Homo sapiens: one gene and its partners. The protein of the gene in region 1 purifies or fractionates together with the protein of each later gene. This does not show direct contact. Each region holds a gene or a part of one and is shown in the gene's direction. Other genes may lie near its edges. The genes, in order: PLEKHM1, VPS33A and TRIM22.

Region 1 (7,121 bases):
GCAATAAAAAGGGATGAAGTCCTGATACATGCTACAACATGATGGAAAATATGCTAAGTGAAATAAGTCAGATTCAAAGGGTCATATGCTGTATTGATATCTATTCATGTGAGATGTACAAAATATGCAAAGCCACAGAAACAGAAAATAGATTAGTGACTGCATTCACTTCGTATTCCCCTTTCTCCCAGCCCCTGGCAATCACTAATATACAGTATTTCTTTTTGGGGTGATGAAAATCGTTTTTTTTGTTTGTTTTTTTGTTTTTTTGTTTTTTTGTTTTTTTGAGACGGAGTCTCCCTCTGCTGCCCAGGCTGGAGTGCAGTGGCACAATCTTGACTCACTACAAACTCCACCTCCCAGGTTCAAGTGATTCTCATGCCTCTGCCTCCCAAGTAGCTGGGATTATGGGTGTGCACCACCATGCCCGGCTAATTTTTGTATTTTTGGTAGAGATGGGGGTTTCACCATGTTGGCCAGGCTGGTCTCGAACTCCTGACCTCAGGTGATCCACTCGTCTTGGCCTCCCGAAGTGCTGGGATTATAGGCGTGAGCCACTGTGCCCGGCCAGAAAATCTTCTAAAATTAGGTAGTGGTGATGGTTGCACAATTGTGTGAATATACTAGAAACAATTGAACTGTATACTTTAAATGGGTGTATTTTATGGTATATGAATTATATCTCATTAAAACCGTTATATTTTTTCAAATTTAACTTTTCAAAGAATGTTAACATTTAGTGTTTTGGCTGAAATCAAAATAAAAGATTAAAATATGTAGCCATAATCCTATCACCCAACAATTCAAACCAGTTTTTCTGTAATCCCTTCCAGTCCTTTTCCAATCACTTATGTGATTTTCACATGCTTATAATTATGCTCAATTTTTACTCTATATTTCCAAAAGACTCTATGTACATTTTGTGGTGTATCATTTAACAAACATTTATTGAGTATTTCTATGTGCCAGGCACAGTGCCAAGTGTTGACACAAGGATGAATAAAACACTAGTCTTAGTGCCACACTCAGCTCTTTTATATATATGTTTTTTGTTTTGTTTTGTTTTGTTTTGTTTTGTTTTTCTGAGATGGAGTCTCACTCTGCCACCCAGGCTGGAATGCAGTGGCACGATTTTGGCTCAGTACAACCTCTGCCTCCTGGGTTTAAGTGATTCTCCTGCCTCAGCCTCCTAAGTAGCTGGGATTACAGGCACTCACCACCACACCTGGCTATTTTTTTTTTTTTTTTTTTTGAGGCGGAGTCTCGCTCTGTCGCCCAGGCTGGAGTGCAGTGGTGCGATCTTGGCTCACTGGAAACTCCGCCTCCTGAGTTCACGCCATTCTCCTGCCTCAGCCTCCCGCGTAGCTGGGACTACAGGCGCTGCCACCACGCCCAGCTATTTTTTTGCATTTTTAGTAGAGATGGGGTTTCAGCCTGTTATCCAGGATGGTCTCGATCTTCTGACCTCGTGATCCGCCCACCTCGGCCTCCCAAAGTGCTGGGGTTACAGGCGTGAGCCACCGTGCCCGGCCCACACCTGGCTAATTTTTGCATTTTTAGTAGAGACAGGGTTTCATCATGTTTGCCAGGCTGATCTCAAACTCCTAACCTCAAGTGATCCGCCTGCCTTGGCCTCCCAAAGTGTTGGGATTACAGGTGTGAGCCACCACACCCAGCCTCTTTTTAGAATTTATCTAGTAGGTTTTCTGGTTTTCACCAGAAACCACTTCCCAAAAAAAAAAAGAAAAAAAAAGGTAGTCCTGTCCTCAGGAGAATCCTCATAGTACTATAAATCAGAAAGTATTATTTCCACTTTAACAGATAAGGAAATTGAGGCTCAAAGCGGTTAAGTGGAATGTCTGAGGAGGCCCATCTGGTTACTGGCAGCTAGGACTGAGCCTAGTCCTCTGGCTTCCAGGCCTAGGATCTTTCTTTTTTTGAGACAAGGTCTTGCTATGTTGCCCAGGCTGGAGTACAGTGGTGTGATCACAGCTCACTGCAGCCTTGAACTCCTGGACTCAAGCAGTCCTCCTGCCTCTGACCTCCCAAAGTTCTGGGATTACAGGTTTGAGCCACCACGCCCAGCCTAGGATCTTTCTTAAAGTAAACCATGCTCCTGTTCTCCTCATGTTTTTATTGTTCTAAAGCAGTGTGGGTGTTTATTGTTTGTTTGTTTTTGCCTCTTGGCTTATTGATTCTCTACAGAAGCTTGTCCATGTAAAAAAGGTGGGAAGCCCCACCCTTGTCCTAGATGGATTTACCCAAGCTCCCATCACTGCAGCTATGATGGGGCCAATATTTAAACACAAGATTATATGGCTCTAAGTTCACTTAAGTTTGGTCTAAAAAACAAAAAGTATCTATACTAAAGGACATATGAAACAAACAATAACAGTAATTATCTCTGGGTAGTGTGTGTGATTTTCCTTTTCTTCTCTATGCTTTATCTTTCTTTGCTGTAGTTAACAATGTGCTAATTTTGCAGAAGGAATCTACAGACACACACATAGATGTGTGTGCATGTGGTTGCACACGTATTTGGCACCAGCTAAAGGATTACACTCTAGGGACTCTCCATAGGATTTTCCGCTAAAGGCCTGTGTTCTGTGTGGTGCTGCCTAGGTCATCAAGAAGAAGCTGGTGGGATCCGTGAAGGCCTTGCAGAAGCAGTACGTGTCCCTGGACACGGTGGTCACTAGTGAAGACGGAGATGCCAACACCATGTGCAGCGCCCTGGAGGCCGTATTTATCCATGGCCTGCACGCCAAGCACATCCGAGCTGAGGCCGGAGGAAAAAGGAAGAAAAGTGCCCACCAGAAGCCTCTGCCCCAGCCTGTCTTCTGGCCCCTCCTGAAAGCTGTCACCCACAAGTGAGATTTAGCTGGAGAGGTTTTGCTTTGCGGAGGAGCAGCAGACTATGGGACACTTGGCTTTTCCTCCCCAGCTGTTCAGGAAGCCAACAGAGGTGCCCTGTGTTCTAGCATAGAGAGAGGGTGAGGTAGGGGTTGAAAGTGTCTTCTAGAAAGGCTTATCTCTAGACCAAGCTTCCCAGCCAGTGTGCCAGCAGATCTTGAGACCCTCAGCACTCAGGCAAGAGCCTGTGGCTGCTTTGAGACTGGTCACAAAAAGCAGGTGAGACTGGCCACCTTTAGCAGGAACAGCCTTTTTTGCCACACTGGGGCAGAGTTACATAGTTACAACAGAGGTTGTGTGGCCTGCAAAGCCTGAAGAATATACTATCTGGCCCTTTACAGAAGGGCTGACCCTGCCTTGGATTTGCTGACCCTGCCTTAGATTATTCAAACATCCGAATTGTAAATCTTTTTTTTTTTTTTTGGGATGGAGTTTCGCTCTGTCACTCAGGCTGGAGTGCAATGGCGCGATCTCGGTTCACTGGCACCTCTGCTTCCCAGGTTCAAGCAATTCTCCTGCCTCAGCCTCCTGAGTAACTGGGACAACAGGCGCGCACCATCACGCCCAGCTAATTTTTGTATTTTTAGTAGAGAGGGGTTTTGCTATGTTGGTCAGGCTGCTCTCAAACTCCTGACCTTGTGATCTGCCTACCTCCGCCTCCCAAAGTGCTGGGATTATATAAAGAGTGGAATCAGGAAAAGCATATGAATATTCACCCTGAGACACTTATCTCTTTGGCCCCTAACTGTCTGGGCTTTTGAGCAAGTAGCTGGCACTGTGCCTCTGAGGACTACTAAATGCCACCTTCAGCCCAAAAGAAGCCTTGTCAGTCTCTAATCTTCCTTTCCATGCAGATTGCCACTGCCTTGTCTCACGTTCTTCTTTCCTGGGTGACACTGGCTTTCTATTTGTCCCCCTTATCTCACTCTGTCTTTCCTTGAGTCCATCATCTGGTCAACATTTACTGAGCTGAAGCTCCCTGGAGCTTACTCACTGAGCCTAGTAGAGTGCGGTCTACATTCCCATGGAGGAGATAAACCTGCGCTAGGGACTGTGGTAGCTCAGAGGGGCATGTACATCAGACGGAGGCATTCTGGGACTGAGTTTGGTACACCTGGGGTCTGATCTCCTTATGCAGAACATCTACCCTGCAGTCTGCATGACTGTGGTCAAGTCACTTTTCTAAACAAAAATCTGTAGCCTACAGGCTCCCAGATGCTAGCCTGGAGACTGATTCACTAGGTTGGGGTCCCAGAACTTGTATCCTGCTCAAGTTCCCCAGGGGGTTCTGGTGCACAGCTGGGTGTGGGGCCATTACCCCGTGTTGCCTTATTGATTTGATATTTAAGACCCTCTCTTTCCTGGCCTTGCAACCAAACCACCCACTTTTCCGCCACATGCTGTAATTGGAGCGCTCCCCAATCCTCTTACAGGGTTGTTGATTTCCTACACTTTATGCCTTTTTCCATCAGTCCCTTGTGCCTGAGGGCAGGGACCATGTCTTTACCCTGCATCTTCATTGCTCCAAGGACTTTGCACTTAAGGAGCTCTGACAGCATGCCTTAGATGAGCAGATGTGTCAGGGGCCCCGTGGTAGTTGGAATGAACATGGAAATTATCTTTCACAATTCCAATCTCAAAATATATATATATATATAATGTATAAATATATATAATTTATATTTATATATTTATTATATATAAATATAAATATATATATATATATTGCCTAGGCTGGAGTGCAGTGGTCCAATCTCCGCTCACTGTGACCTTTGCTTCCCAGGCTCAAGCTATCCTTCCACCTCAACCTCCCGAGTAGCTGGGTAGCTGGGACTACACGTGCAAGCCACCACATCTGGCTATGTTGTTGTTGTAGAGACAGAGTTTCGTCCTGTTGCCCAGGCTGGTCACGAATTCCTGAGCTCAAGTGATCCACCTGCCTTGGCCTCCCAAAGTGCTGGGATTACAGGTGTGAGCCACCACATCTGGCCTAAAACACTATTACCCAATATTTTTTCATGCCTGTATCTATTTGCAGTAGTTATTCCTGGTTCCTGCTAACCAGTGGATAAAAGCACATCTCTGTGATTTGGGGTAGTTTCTTGAAACACGTCTGTTCTCCCTTCCCAGACACATCATCTCAGAGTTGGAGCACCTGACGTTTGTCAACACGGATGTGGGCCGCTGCCGGGCATGGCTGCGGCTGGCCCTGAACGATGGCCTGATGGAGTGCTACCTGAAGCTGCTGCTGCAGGAGCAGGCCCGCTTGCATGAGTACTACCAGCCCACCGCCCTGCTCCGGGATGCTGAGGAGGGCGAGTTCCTCCTTAGCTTCCTGCAGGGCCTCACGTCCTTGTCCTTCGAACTCTCCTACAAGTCTGCCATCTTAAATGAGTGGACGCTCACCCCATTGGCCCTGTCTGGGCTTTGCCCGCTTTCTGAGCTGGACCCTCTCTCTACCTCTGGTGCAGAACTACAGCGGAAGGAATCTCTGGATTCCATTTCCCATTCTTCAGGCTCTGAAGACATCGAAGTCCATCACTCGGGCCATAAGATACGGAGGAACCAGAAGCTGACTGCCTCCTCCCTCAGCCTGGACACGGCCAGTTCATCCCAGCTGTCCTGCAGCCTAAACTCTGATAGCTGCTTACTCCAAGAGAATGGCTCCAAGAGTCCAGACCATTGCGAGGAGCCCATGTCCTGTGACTCAGACCTGGGCACAGCAAATGCTGAGGACTCAGACCGGTCTCTGCAAGAGTGAGTACGCTGCCCCCACTCCTTCCCATCTTCTCTCTTCCCTCCTTTCTTTCCTCTCCTCCTCCCTTTCTTCCCATAGCATGTGATTGTCTGTTACTGAACTCTATTAGTAATTAAAGAAAGCCAAGGGAGTCATCGACTTCTCCAGGGACTGGAGTAGCTGGGAACTGTAGCAGGCAATACAGGCATAGTGGAGAAAGTGGACTTAGAACAGCTTAGAGCTGGTTTGGGCTCCAGCTCTGCCCCGGTGACTTTTAGCAAGTTACTTGGCCGGGTGCGGTGGCTCATGCCTGAAATCCCAGCACTTGGGAGGCTGATACAGGAGGATTGCTTGAGCCCAGCAGTTCGAGGCCAGCCTGGGCAATGTAGCAAGATCCTGCCTCTAAATTAAAAATAAATAAATAAATAAAACAAAAACTGAAAACAAACAATAACAACAAAAAAACAAGATACTTAGTCTCTACAAGGCACAGTGTAAAATATTGTTGTCTTCATCTAGAAGGAAGGAAACTAATAGGTCAGAGTACATTTAAAACGTCCAACAAATAGATGAAACATAACGCATAAGAGTGTGACTTCACAGAATACCTCCTGGGGGACACAGGACCTGAGTGCTGCATGCAGGAGGTGGTGGACAGGTGGGGACAGACAGATGTGTGGAAGAGTATGTGGGGCAGATGAACTAGGCTGAAGAGAGAACTGGGCAGAGCCTTCTTCACACAGCCTTTTAAACATTTTTTTGCAGCTGGGCACGGTGGCTCACGCCTGTAATCCCAGCACCTTGGGAGGCCAAGGCAGGTGGATCACAAGGTCAGGAGATTGAGACCATCCTGACTAACATGGTGAAACCCCGTCTCTACTAAAAATACAAAAAATTAGCTGGGCATGGTGGCGGGCGCCTTGTAGTCCCAGCTACATGGGCGGCTGAGGCAGGAGAATGGCATGAACCCGGGAGGTGGAGCTTGCAGTGAGCTGAGACCGCACCACTGCACTCCAGCCTGGGTGACAGAGTAAGACTCTGTCTCAAAAAAAAAAAATAAATAAATAAATAAAATAAAAAATTTGCATAGATAATCTTTTTATGGTTAAAAAAAATCTAAAACATATACAGTGAAAGCCTTTCCCATTCCTGTTCTCCCTCTACCCTGTTCTTTCCTCCCACCCCTAAAACCATAATAATTTCCTGTATATTCTTCCAAATTTCTAAATGCATCTACAACAAATACCAGTATAAAGATTTTCAGCTGGGCGCAGTGGCTCACGCCTGTAATCCCAGCACTTTGGGAGGCCGAGGCGGGCGGATCACAAAGGCAAGAGATCGAGACCTTTCTGGCTAACACGGTGAAACCCCATCTCTACTAAAAATACAAAAAATTAGCCGGGCGTGGTGGCGGGCGCCTGAAGTCCCAGCTACTCAGGAGGCTGAGGCAGGAGAATGGTGTGGACCCAGG
Region 2 (6,552 bases), on another chromosome or scaffold:
AGCTCAGGAGTTTGAGAACAGCCTGACTAACATGGGAAACCCCATCTCTACTAAAAATACAAAAATTAGCCCAGCATTGTGGTGCGTGCCTGTAATCCCATCTACTTGGGGGGCTGAGGCAGGAGAATTGCTTGAACCTGGGAGGCGGAGGTTGTAGTGAGCTCAGATCATGCCATTGCACTCCAGCCTGGGCGACAGAGCAAGACTCTGTCTCAAAAAAAAAAAAAAAAAAGTTATGGGGCAGGCTCGGTGGCTCATTCTTGTAATCCCAGTATATTGGGAGGCTGAAGGGTCAGATCGCTTGAGTCCAGGAGTTCGAGACCAGCCTGGGCAACATGGCAAAACCTTGTCTCTACAAAAAAAATGGCCAGTGGTAGTATGAGCCTTTAGTCCGAGGGGCTGTGGTTAGAGGATCACTGAGCCCAGGAGGCGGTTGCAGTGAACCATGTTTGTGCCACTGCACTCCAGGCTGGGCTACACAGTAAGACTCTGTCTCAAATAAATAAAGATGTGGGAAGAGTGGAGAGGCAGTGCAGTGGGGAGCCCTTGCCAGCCACGGCCTGAAGGACAAGGAGAGGGGGGTGTTCTAGAAACTTGTCTTAGAACCTGGAGAGAAGAGCTGTGGTGAGGCCATCTGGTGAGGTAAGGGGTGAGGGGCCTCTGGCTGAGGGTATGGTCAACCTCCAGCAGAGGAAGCTGGCCAGTGACAACGTCATCCTCACACTGCTGCCCACTCTCCAGTTCACTCTGGTGCTTTGTCTTGGTCAGACCCAAAGAGAAGGCATTGGAGTGTGTTGGTGTGGGACGCACAGGTCCATCTCCGGGCACAGAGCATTGCGGAGAAGGGTGGAGAGTGTCTAGAGGAGTCAGTGGAGATGTCCAGCACTCATAAACAAGCCAGCCATGGCCAGGCGCGGTGGCTCACACCTGTAATTCCAGCACTTTGGGAGGCCAAGGCAGGAGGATCACTTGAGGTCAGGAGTTCAAGACCAGCCTGGCCAACATGGTGAAACCCTGTCTCTACTAAAAAATACAAAAGTGATCAGGGCATGGTGGAGCATGCATCTGTAGGCCCAGCTACTGTACTCAGAAGGCTGAGGTGGGAGCCTCCCAGGAGGCTGAGCCTGGGAGGTTGAGGCTACAGTGAGCTGAGATTGCACTGCTGCACTCCAGCATGGGCGACAGAATGAGACCCTATCTCAAAAAGAAAAAGAAAAAGGGAAAAAAAAAGCTATGCAAAAGCAGGGCCATCAGGGCCAAGTGAGTTTCCTTCCACAGTTTCCCCTCAGAGGCAGCCACTGTGGCCAGTTTTTTATCTATCCTTCCAGAAAGATTCTGTGCATATACATTTTTACATAAAGAGTGCATATTCTCTACTGTTGGTCTCCAAAGTGGGGTGCACTTTGCTTTACATTTATTACTTATTCTAATGTTTCTAAATTTCAGTCTTTTTTGGTTTTTCATAAGGAACTTTATTAGGCCGCCTCTTGCAACAAAAGCTCATAACTAGACAGTCTCCTCTGTCAGGAGCAAAATTAAATGATTTTTTCCCGGTGGGAAAATAGAGACCCTTAATGTCTAGAGTCTATCATGTACATATTAGTTCAGCTGTCTTCACTGTTCTGACCTTTCTGACTCTGGACCCACCCACCACTTAACAAAGGATCTTGAAGGGTCTTCTGTGATCTTCCCCTTCTTTTTAATTTTTCTAAATTGCTACATAGTGGTTTTGAGGCTATACCTTATTTAATGATTTAACAGATTGCTATTGATAGAAATTCAGGTTGTTTCCAGTCTTTACTGTTACATGCAGTGTTGCAGTTAATACGTTTATACTTTGGTCTATTATCTTTTGTTCTGCAAGCACCTCTGTAGGATTAATGCCTAAAAGTAGAATTGCTAAGTTCAAAGGTTATTGCACATCATTGCTCAGCTAGGGAGTGCCAAGTTCCCCCCAATATGTTTCATGCTGGCTGGACGCGGTGGCTCAGGCCTGTAATCCCAACACTTTGGGAGGCCGAGGCAGGTGGATCACCTGAGGTCAGAAATTCAAGACCAGCCTGGCCAACATGGTGAAACCCTGTCTCTACTAAAAATACAACAATGAGCCAGGAGTGGTGGTGCACACCTGTAATCCCAGCTCTTTGGGAGCCTGAGGCAGGAGAATTGCTTGAACTAGGGAGGCGGAGGTTGCAGTGAGCTGAAATTATGCCACTGCACTCCAGCCTGGGTGACAGAGCCAGACTCTGTCTCAAAAAAAAAAAAAAAGTTTCATGCCAAACCAAATAATTCTTCATCTTCTGTACCTAGAGCTGCTTTGAGTGGCTTTTCAAGATTTCAGTCAAAATTGAAGCTCTGGCTGCTAAAAATTGAGCCCAGCTAGGGTGGATTAGAACAAGGCATGGCAGGGGTGGGGGTTGTATATCTTTAAATCCAAATCAAATAATTTTGGATTACCCAAAAGGCCACAGTCAGGTAGCTCTAAGTCTCTGTATCTATAGGGTTTTTGTTCTTTAATTATCTCACAGAACCCCACGGACATATCGTATGTGTACAGTGGGTATGCCCCGCTCAGTGTGCGGCTGGCCCAGCTGCTTTCCCGGCCTGGCTGGCGGAGCATCGAGGAGGTCCTCCGCATCCTCCCAGGGCCCCACTTTGAGGAGCGGCAGCCACTGCCCACAGGACTGCAGAAGAAACGTAAGTCCCAGTCCAGCATCTACAGATAATTATGTACTGTTAGTGTGGTTTTCAGGTATTGTACAGTTGCTTTGTAAAATAGTAAAGCACTTAGGAGTCAGAATTAAATACACCTCTTTTGTTCGTTGCTAATGTATGTAGTAAGAACTCGAATCGGATTATTCCCTGAGGGATAGCAGCTTTCAACTTCTGTGTTGAGAATCTCAGAAGTTAAAAAAAAATGTTGAGATCAAAATCAGTATTCTTAGGTTTCAGATGAACTGTCTGGATGAAGGCACTTGTTTATTCTTATGAATGATAAAATGTTTGAAGAGGTGGGAAGAGAAGCATTAATAATAAATAGTTTTTAATTCTGAAATGTTTAAATTTTAGGTCAACCGGGAGAAAACCGAGTGACTCTGATATTTTTCCTTGGGGGCGTAACCTTCGCTGAAATTGCTGCCCTGCGATTTCTCTCCCAGTTGGAAGATGGAGGTACAGAATATGTCATTGCCACCACTAAACTAATGAATGGAACCAGTTGGATAGAGGCTCTGATGGAAAAACCTTTCTAGGATGTTCAGAGGAGACTTAACAAGTGTACTGCAGAATAAACTACCTCTTTGAAGAAATTGCTGAAAGGAAGTAAAACCCCATAGAAGAAACATGGGAATACAGAATATATTCTGGGGTCAGCTTCTTAAATTATACTACTGTTTACTGCTTTCTCCGTCTCTTTTGTATTCCCTTTTTTTTTTTCCTTTGAGACGGAGTCTTGCTCTGTCACCCAGACTAGAGTGCAGTGGCACGGTCTCACCTCACTGCAACCTCCACCTCCTAGGTTCAAGCAATTCTCCTGCCTCAGCCTCCTGAGTAGCTGGGACTACAGGCATGCACCACCACACCCGGCTAATTTTTGTATTTTTAGTAGCCATGGTGTTTCACCATGTTGGCCAGGCTGGTCTCAAACTCCTGACCTCAGGTGATCCACCTGCCTCGGCCTCCCACAGTGCTGGGATTACAGGCCTGAGCCACCGTGCCTGGCCCCTAATCTGCTGAAGAAAGAAGAATAGAAGAAAATCAACCTGAGTAAAAGCAGCACTGGTTTTGAGTTTTCTAAGCTCAGGGTCTTCATTAGAGACCTCTGGAAATACATTAAGGATGGTGGGGGTAGATAATCCATTCAGCCAGACAAACGGGGCCAGCTCTTAAAATAAGAAAGCTGAGACTGAGGAGGTGAAACTGAAAATAAAAAGAGAAAGTTCATCCTCTAATCCCCAGTGCTGTATTTCTTCAAGGCGCATCAGGCCTAGGACAGTGGTTAAGTGTTGGGAGCTGGAGATCATTTTATCACTGAGTTGAGATTTCTTTTTCCTGCAGAGTGTGGGAGATTATATTTAGGGTCATCAGTCACTGTCGCAACTGATCACTAAGGCAAGTTTGCTTCCTTCTACTTCTTACAAAGCAAGAGGTTTAGGGGAGCTTCTTGCCCAGAAACAAAGTTTATGCTCTATGTGATCAGCTACATCTCCTTAGGTTCCATACTTATCAGGGGCTTTTGACATGGAAGAATGTGATAATTGGGGAGCAACCTTCTGAGAATTCAGCCTTTGAAGTAATTCAAAGACAGTTTCTTAGCACACACGTTAACTCCAGACACAGCAGTGGTGGGTGCCTCCATTGAGGTTTCCGTTTTCTCTTCTGTCCATCAAGGGCCCAACATCCAACTGGTCCCACAGTGAGCAGGGGCAACTCTTGCTTCTTCAGCATCTGGCCACTTCGTTTCCATGGTAACTGCCACGTGTACTTTTCTAGCAGTCTGTGGCCACTCCGTACTCAGCTGAAAACACTGTTTCAGCCCCCTCTCTGGTGACCTCAGCCTTCTCCAGGTGTATCTCTTGATGATCTTGGAGACCAGCAGCCACAGCTGCTGCTACTCCTGCAGGAGACTGTCAGGCTGTGGTGGGGGGCAGGGGTGTTGGAGGAGAAGTTGAAAATCCGTGTGTTCTCTGCCCCTCTGCTCCTCCATCTTAGCTTCTGGAGGAGTTAAGGCACCAAGGGCACCAAGTCAGGTTGGCAGTTTTGCTGCCCTTGCCCAAGCCTCCAGCAAAACTAGCTGGTCCCCTGCTTTGCTGGGTCCCAGCCAGGTGTGATTTTGGTTGTTGATTAGTAACCACACATTGTTTTTCCCCACCTTTTTCATTAGTGGAGGTTTTTGTTTTGTTTTGTTTTTGTTTGTTTGAGACAGAGTCTCACGCTCTTTTCAGACTGGAGTGCAGTGGTGCGATGTCAGCTCACTGCAACCTCCACTTCCCGGGTTCAGACGATTCTCATGCCTCAGCCTCCTGAGTAGCTGGGATTACAGATGTGCACCACCACACCTGGCTAATTTTTGTATTTTTAGTAGAGATGGGGTTTCACCATATTGGCCAGGCTGGTCTCAAACTCCTGACCTCAGGCGATTGGCCCACCTCGGCCTCCCAAAGTGCTGGGATTACAGGTGTGAACCACCGTGCCCGGCCCATTAGTGGAGTTCTGATGGGCACGGTAAATATTATTAATGAAAGAGAAATTCTGTATACTTTTTTAAAAATCTCTTTAATGAAAGAATGAAGAGTGGCAGAGATAATAATTGAAAGATTAGTTTCTCATGGAATTAATTTGGCCTTGATATTCAGTATTTGGAAATGTCTTAAAGAAAACCATTTTCATTGTAGAAAATCCTTTTTTAAATACTTGTTATATCCCAGGGAGATTAGTTTATACCTTCCACCTCAGGCAGTCATCAGCTGCTTTAGAGAATGGAATCCACCCTGCCCCTCCATTTTTTGGTTCCTGGGGCTCAATTCAAGTCTGGTCAAGTCTCCCTGGCTGGGGATTCTGTCCTGGGAACAGATACTCAGTTGTAGTCTCATGTGTCTGCACTCACCCAAGACTCTATATACTTGCTTGCTCAGAGCATAGTTAGGGCAGCTCCTAAAAATGCATTCAGCAGAAGACTGAAAAACTTCAATTGCTTCATTTGTATGCAAATAGAAAATGGTAGATAATTATATATTATACGCCTTTGTGTAAGTTCATTTAATACTTGAAGCAGTCTTTGTCTCAAAAGAGTATGCCCTTACTGAGAAAGGATATGTGAACGGTACATTTATTGTTGGGGAGAGTGGATTGTTTACATCATGTCTGGACTTTTGTCTAGTTGGGTAGACAGTTCTACACCAGCAGCCCCCTTAATAAAGAAGTCTACACAGACACTGTTTTGTGTCTTGCTATAGAGTGTTGAATTCTAACCAACAGAGAATTAAGTATTTTGTTAATTGTGGAGCAAAAGAGTAATGGTTGAAAGAGGGATGATTTAAAACAGCACATTTAATTCTCAGAGAAAACTGGGACAGTCTCATTGTGAGTTCTATTCGATTCAGATCTGCCCTCACTGCAAATGGATTATGATTAAGCATGATGTGTTGGTCGGTCTTGTTCTCAGTTGTACACTAAAGACCAGCCTGTCACCAGGAGGAAGTGTTTGTATTGAGCAGAGTTTAATTCAAGAAGAAATTATTTTTTTGAGATGAGGTCTTATTCTGTTGCCCAGGCTGGAGTGCAGTGGCACAATCATAGCTCACCACAGCCTTGAACTTCTGGGCTCAAGCAGTCCTCCTGCCTCAGTCTCACGAGTAGCTGGGACTATAGCAAAGCACCACCACACCCAGCAATTTTTTTTTCTTCCTTTTAGAGACAGGGTCTTTGTTGCTCAAACTCCTGGCCTCAAGAGAAATAATTCTTTTTTTCTTTTTCATTAAATTTATTATCTTTTTAATTTTCTGTTGGCTAGGGTGGTCTCGAACTCCTAGCTTTAAGCAGCCCTCCTGCCTC
Region 3 (4,695 bases), on another chromosome or scaffold:
GTGTTGGGAGATCACAGAGTTAGGGTCGACGGAGGCCTTAGGAATAAGAGTTTGCAATATCAGAACCCCATGACTTCACTCACTTTATTCAAACCTCTGTCTCTGTTGTTTCCATATTGCATAGATGCCTGTCTTATTGCAGTGAGGCTCTGCCCTTTTTATATGCCAGACTCCAAATTTTTCAGAGACAGCGCCTTTATGTTTGTTTTCCTCCCTGAGAATAAAATAAACAATAACTTTCTAGGTGGTGCTTTTTAGATTTCTAGAAAAATAGATTCAAGTCTTGAGGAATAGTGGCTTTGGTCCTGGTGCTAGCATAACCTTTTCTTGCTCACATACTTTACCGTCTTGTAGGAAAAAATAATATTCTTGTGTCTAAAGTTGCCCACCTACTTGGCAACATCAAAGTTTTTTTAAACACATGAAAATCAGACCACTATTAATTAATTTAGTCATCGTAATTTGTCTTTCCCCAAATAACTTGAAACCTCAGACATTATTCTCTAGGTCTCATATTGGGATAACAGATTTTGGAAACCCTTTAGCTCTTCAATATAGGATCCTACTTTGATATCTCTCAACAACTCAGGAGACAGATTCTATGGCCTCCTTAATGACCACCTGTCTAGGAACCCACATCTCTGGCCTCTTCCTGGTGGACCCACTGAGATGGCAATGACTTTTCTAAATATTAAATAAGTTTTTTAGAGGCACTGAATATCTTTTAAAAGCATTATTGGCTGGGTGCAGTGGGTCACGCCTACAATGCTAGCACTTTGGGAAGCCGAGGCAGGCGGATCACTTGAGGTCAGAAGTTCAAAACCAGCCTGGCCAACATGGTGAAACCCTGTCTCTACTAAAAGTACAAAAAAATTAGCTGGATGTGGTAGCAGGCACCTGTAATCCCAGCTACTTGGGAGGCTGAGGCAGGAGAATGGCTTGAACCTGGGAGGCAGAGGTTGCAGTGAGCCGAGGTCGCGCCACTACACTCCAGCCTGGATAACAGAGTGAGACCCCATCTCAAAACAAACAAACAAACAAACAAACAAAAGCATTATTATTTTATCTAATTTTATATTCATTTTTAAGAGGTAGAAAGCATGGGGTTAATTATTGCATTTTAAAAGTAAGAAAGCGAACATCGTTGAAGTGAAGACCTTCCCAAGATTACACAGAGGGGAAGACCTTCCCAAGATTACACACAGACAGGTAGACATGAGCACATTTCTCTGGACTCCAGTGTCAGGCATCTCCCCTCTACTGTCCTCAGGGAAGAGGGTCCAAGTGCGTCAGCAAGTATGGTGAAAGGTGAAAGAGACAGTGATCTTGGATGGAGAGAAATAGGGCAAAGGTGTAAAGGTTATCAATTTTTGTTATCACTAGGAGTGAAAGCTGGACATTGAAGAAGCCAAAATCTGTTTCCAAGAAACTAAAGAGTGTATTCCGAGTACCAGATCTGAGTGGGATGCTGCAAGTTCTTAAAGGTAAGGGGATTCAGGGGAAGGCTGTGAATGTGGATTTCTTAGTATCAGGGCTCAATAGGGAAGCGGGAGGTTTTTTTAGGTTAGGATATAGGAGAGGAGGTGGGCCAGAGAAGGAGGAAAATCCTGTGCTGTAGATGTGGTCCTGTCTTAGGGGGAATGACCAGGTGTCTGATTCATCCTCTCATTCACCAGTGCAAAGAATCCCAGTATTCCCCCTTTCCTTTCCCTACTCTGGAGAAGAGACAGGTGTCAGTACTTACTTATTTGCTTCTAACAACATCACTGAAACTTTTGTCGTTTCAGAGCTGACAGATGTCCAGTACTACTGGGGTAAGATGATATGGGGTTTTCAAATCACTTCCTTTCAGAATTGTGGTTACTATTAGATCTCATAATCTGAGTCTCATGTGTTCCTCCCCAAACATGCTTAAACCATGTAGTTCTTTTTTTTTTTTTTTTTAAGATAGATTTTTGCTATTGTTGCCCAGGCTGGAGTGCAATGGCGCGGTCTCGGCTCACTGCAACCTCTGCCTCCTGGGTTCAAGCGATTCTGCTGCCTCAGCCTCCCAAGTAGCTGGGATTACAGGCGTGTGCCACCACGCTTGGCTAATTTTTATAGTCTTACACCCTGTATTTCTTAAGGGTCCTACTAACCTCTGACTATCAACACAAGTTCCGTTTGATATCGACACAAGTTTCATTTTCAATATGTCTCTTCTCAATGCTGTAAGACACACCTATCCCATATCCTTCACTTGACTTGGTAATTTTTTCTACAGTGGACGTGATGCTGAATCCAGGCAGTGCCACTTCGAATGTTGCTATTTCTGTGGATCAGAGACAAGTGAAAACTGTACGCACCTGCACATTTAAGAATTCAAATCCATGTGATTTTTCTGCTTTTGGTGTCTTCGGCTGCCAATATTTCTCTTCGGGGAAATATTACTGGGAAGTAGATGTGTCTGGAAAGATTGCCTGGATCCTGGGCGTACACAGTAAAATAAGTAGTCTGAATAAAAGGAAGAGCTCTGGGTTTGCTTTTGATCCAAGTGTAAATTATTCAAAAGTTTACTCCAGATATAGACCTCAATATGGCTACTGGGTTATAGGATTACAGAATACATGTGAATATAATGCTTTTGAGGACTCCTCCTCTTCTGATCCCAAGGTTTTGACTCTCTTTATGGCTGTGCCTCCCTGTCGTATTGGGGTTTTCCTAGACTATGAGGCAGGCATTGTCTCATTTTTCAATGTCACAAACCACGGAGCACTCATCTACAAGTTCTCTGGATGTCGCTTTTCTCGACCTGCTTATCCGTATTTCAATCCTTGGAACTGCCTAGTCCCCATGACTGTGTGCCCACCGAGCTCCTGAGTGTTCTCATTCCTTTACCCACTTCTGCATAGTAGCCCTTGTGCTGAGACTCAGATTCTGCACCTGAGTTCATCTCTACTGAGACCATCTCTTCCTTTCTTTCCCCTTCTTTTACTTAGAATGTCTTTGTATTCATTTGCTAGGGCTTCCATAGCAAAGCATCATAGATTGCTGATTTAAACTGTAATTGTATTGCCGTACTGTGGGCTGGAAATCCCAAATCTAGATTCCAGCAGAGTTGGTTCTTTCTGAGGTCTGCAAGGAAGGGCTCTGTTCCATGCCTCTCTCCTTGGCTTGTAGAAGGCATCTTGTCCCTATGACTCTTCACATTGTCTTTATGTACATCTCTGTGCCCAAGTTTTCCCTTTTTATTAAGACACCAGTCATACTGGCTCAGGGCCCACCGCTAATGCCTTAATGAAATCATTTTAACATTATATTCTCTACAAAGACCTTATTTCCAAATAAGATAATATTTGGAGGTATTGGGAATAAAAACTCCAACATATAAATTTGAGGAAGGCACGATTTCACTCATAACAATCTTACCCTTTCTTGCAAGAGATGCTTGTACATTATTTTCCTAATACCTTGGTTTCACTAGTAGTAAACATTATTATTTTTTTTATATTTGCAAAGGAAACATATCTAATCCTTCCTATAGAAAGAACAGTATTGCTGTAATTCCTTTTCTTTTCTTCCTCATTTCCTCTGCCCCTTAAAAGATTGAAGAAAGAGAAACTTGTCAACTCATATCCACGTTATCTAGCAAAGTACATAAGAATCTATCACTAAGTAATGTATCCTTCAGAATGTGTTGGTTTACCAGTGACACCCCATATTCATCACAAAATTAAAGCAAGAAGTCCATAGTAATTTATTTGCTAATAGTGGATTTTTAATGCTCAGAGTTTCTGAGGTCAAATTTTATCTTTTCACTTACAAGCTCTATGATCTTAAATAATTTACTTAATGTATTTTGGTGTATTTTCCTCAAATTAATATTGGTGTTCAAGACTATATCTAATTCCTCTGATCACTTTGAGAAACAAACTTTTATTAAATGTAAGGCACTTTTCTATGAATTTTAAATATAAAAATAAATATTGTTCTGATTATTACTGAAAAGATGTCAGCCATTTCAATGTCTTGGGAAACAATTTTTTGTTTTTGTTCTGTTTTCTTTTTGCTTCAATAAAACAATAGCTGGCTCTACTGAAGTCTCATTCTTCAGTTTCCAAAATCTTGCTGCAGATAATATGAGTTTCCATATGTCCAGTAAAGAAGGTCATGTCTAGGCTCAGCTGTCCTTGATAAGAGACAGCCTTATGCTGTTCAGATCTGTTTCTCGTAATGAAACACTTGTGTGTACCATTGCATTTACCATCCTAGGTACTTTTCTTTTTTTTTTTTTTTAAGTCTTTTTTCAAACACAGGATGAGTAGTAGAACTACCTAGGATAGCAAAGACACAAAACATTCTTGAAGAAATATATTGTATTAGTCGGGGTTCTCCAGAGAAACAGAACAATAAGAGATATGTATTTATTATGAGGAATTGGCTTACTTGATTATGGAGGCTAAGACTTCCCATTATCTGCCATTTGGAAACCAGAGACCCAAAAGCTGGTGATATAAGTCAGTGTGTCTCTGAAGCCCTAAGAACCAGGGAGCTGATGGTATAAATGCCAGTACAAAGGCAGAAAAAGATGAGGTGACATGTCTCAGCTCAAGTACTGCGGCAGGAAAAGAAGCAAATATCTTCTTCCTCAACCCTTTCTCCTACTCAGATCCTTTATGGATTAGATGATGTCCAGCAACTTGGGGGAGGGCAAGC

The links.
Region 2: the proteins of PLEKHM1 (region 1) and VPS33A purify together in Homo sapiens (affinity purification with western blotting; 3 studies listed by BioGRID and IntAct, with this or other methods). This does not show direct contact.
Region 3: the proteins of PLEKHM1 (region 1) and TRIM22 purify together in Homo sapiens (affinity purification with western blotting; 2 studies listed by BioGRID). This does not show direct contact.

The regions. Positions count from the first base shown.
Region 1 is NC_000017.11:45,473,649-45,480,769, reverse strand, and holds part of PLEKHM1 (pleckstrin homology domain-containing family M member 1), read left to right. Parts: intron 1-1,681; exon of another isoform or gene 1,682-1,728; intron 1,729-2,622; coding exon 2,623-2,870; intron 2,871-2,882; exon of another isoform or gene 2,883-3,132; intron 3,133-4,856; exon of another isoform or gene 4,857-4,882; intron 4,883-5,043; coding exon 5,044-5,670; intron 5,671-7,121. UniProt on the Homo sapiens protein: Acts as a multivalent adapter protein that regulates Rab7-dependent and HOPS complex-dependent fusion events in the endolysosomal system and couples autophagic and the endocytic trafficking pathways.
Region 2 is NC_000012.12:122,228,945-122,235,496, reverse strand, and holds the end of VPS33A (vacuolar protein sorting-associated protein 33A), read left to right. Parts: intron 1-2,528; coding exon 2,529-2,697; intron 2,698-3,069; coding exon 3,070-3,251; 3' UTR 3,252-5,933; downstream 5,934-6,552.
Region 3 is NC_000011.10:5,706,790-5,711,484, forward strand, and holds the end of TRIM22 (E3 ubiquitin-protein ligase TRIM22), read left to right. Parts: intron 1-1,383; coding exon 1,384-1,484; intron 1,485-1,787; coding exon 1,788-1,814; intron 1,815-2,263; coding exon 2,264-2,859; 3' UTR 2,860-4,074; downstream 4,075-4,695. UniProt on the Homo sapiens protein: Interferon-induced E3 ubiquitin ligase that plays important roles in innate and adaptive immunity.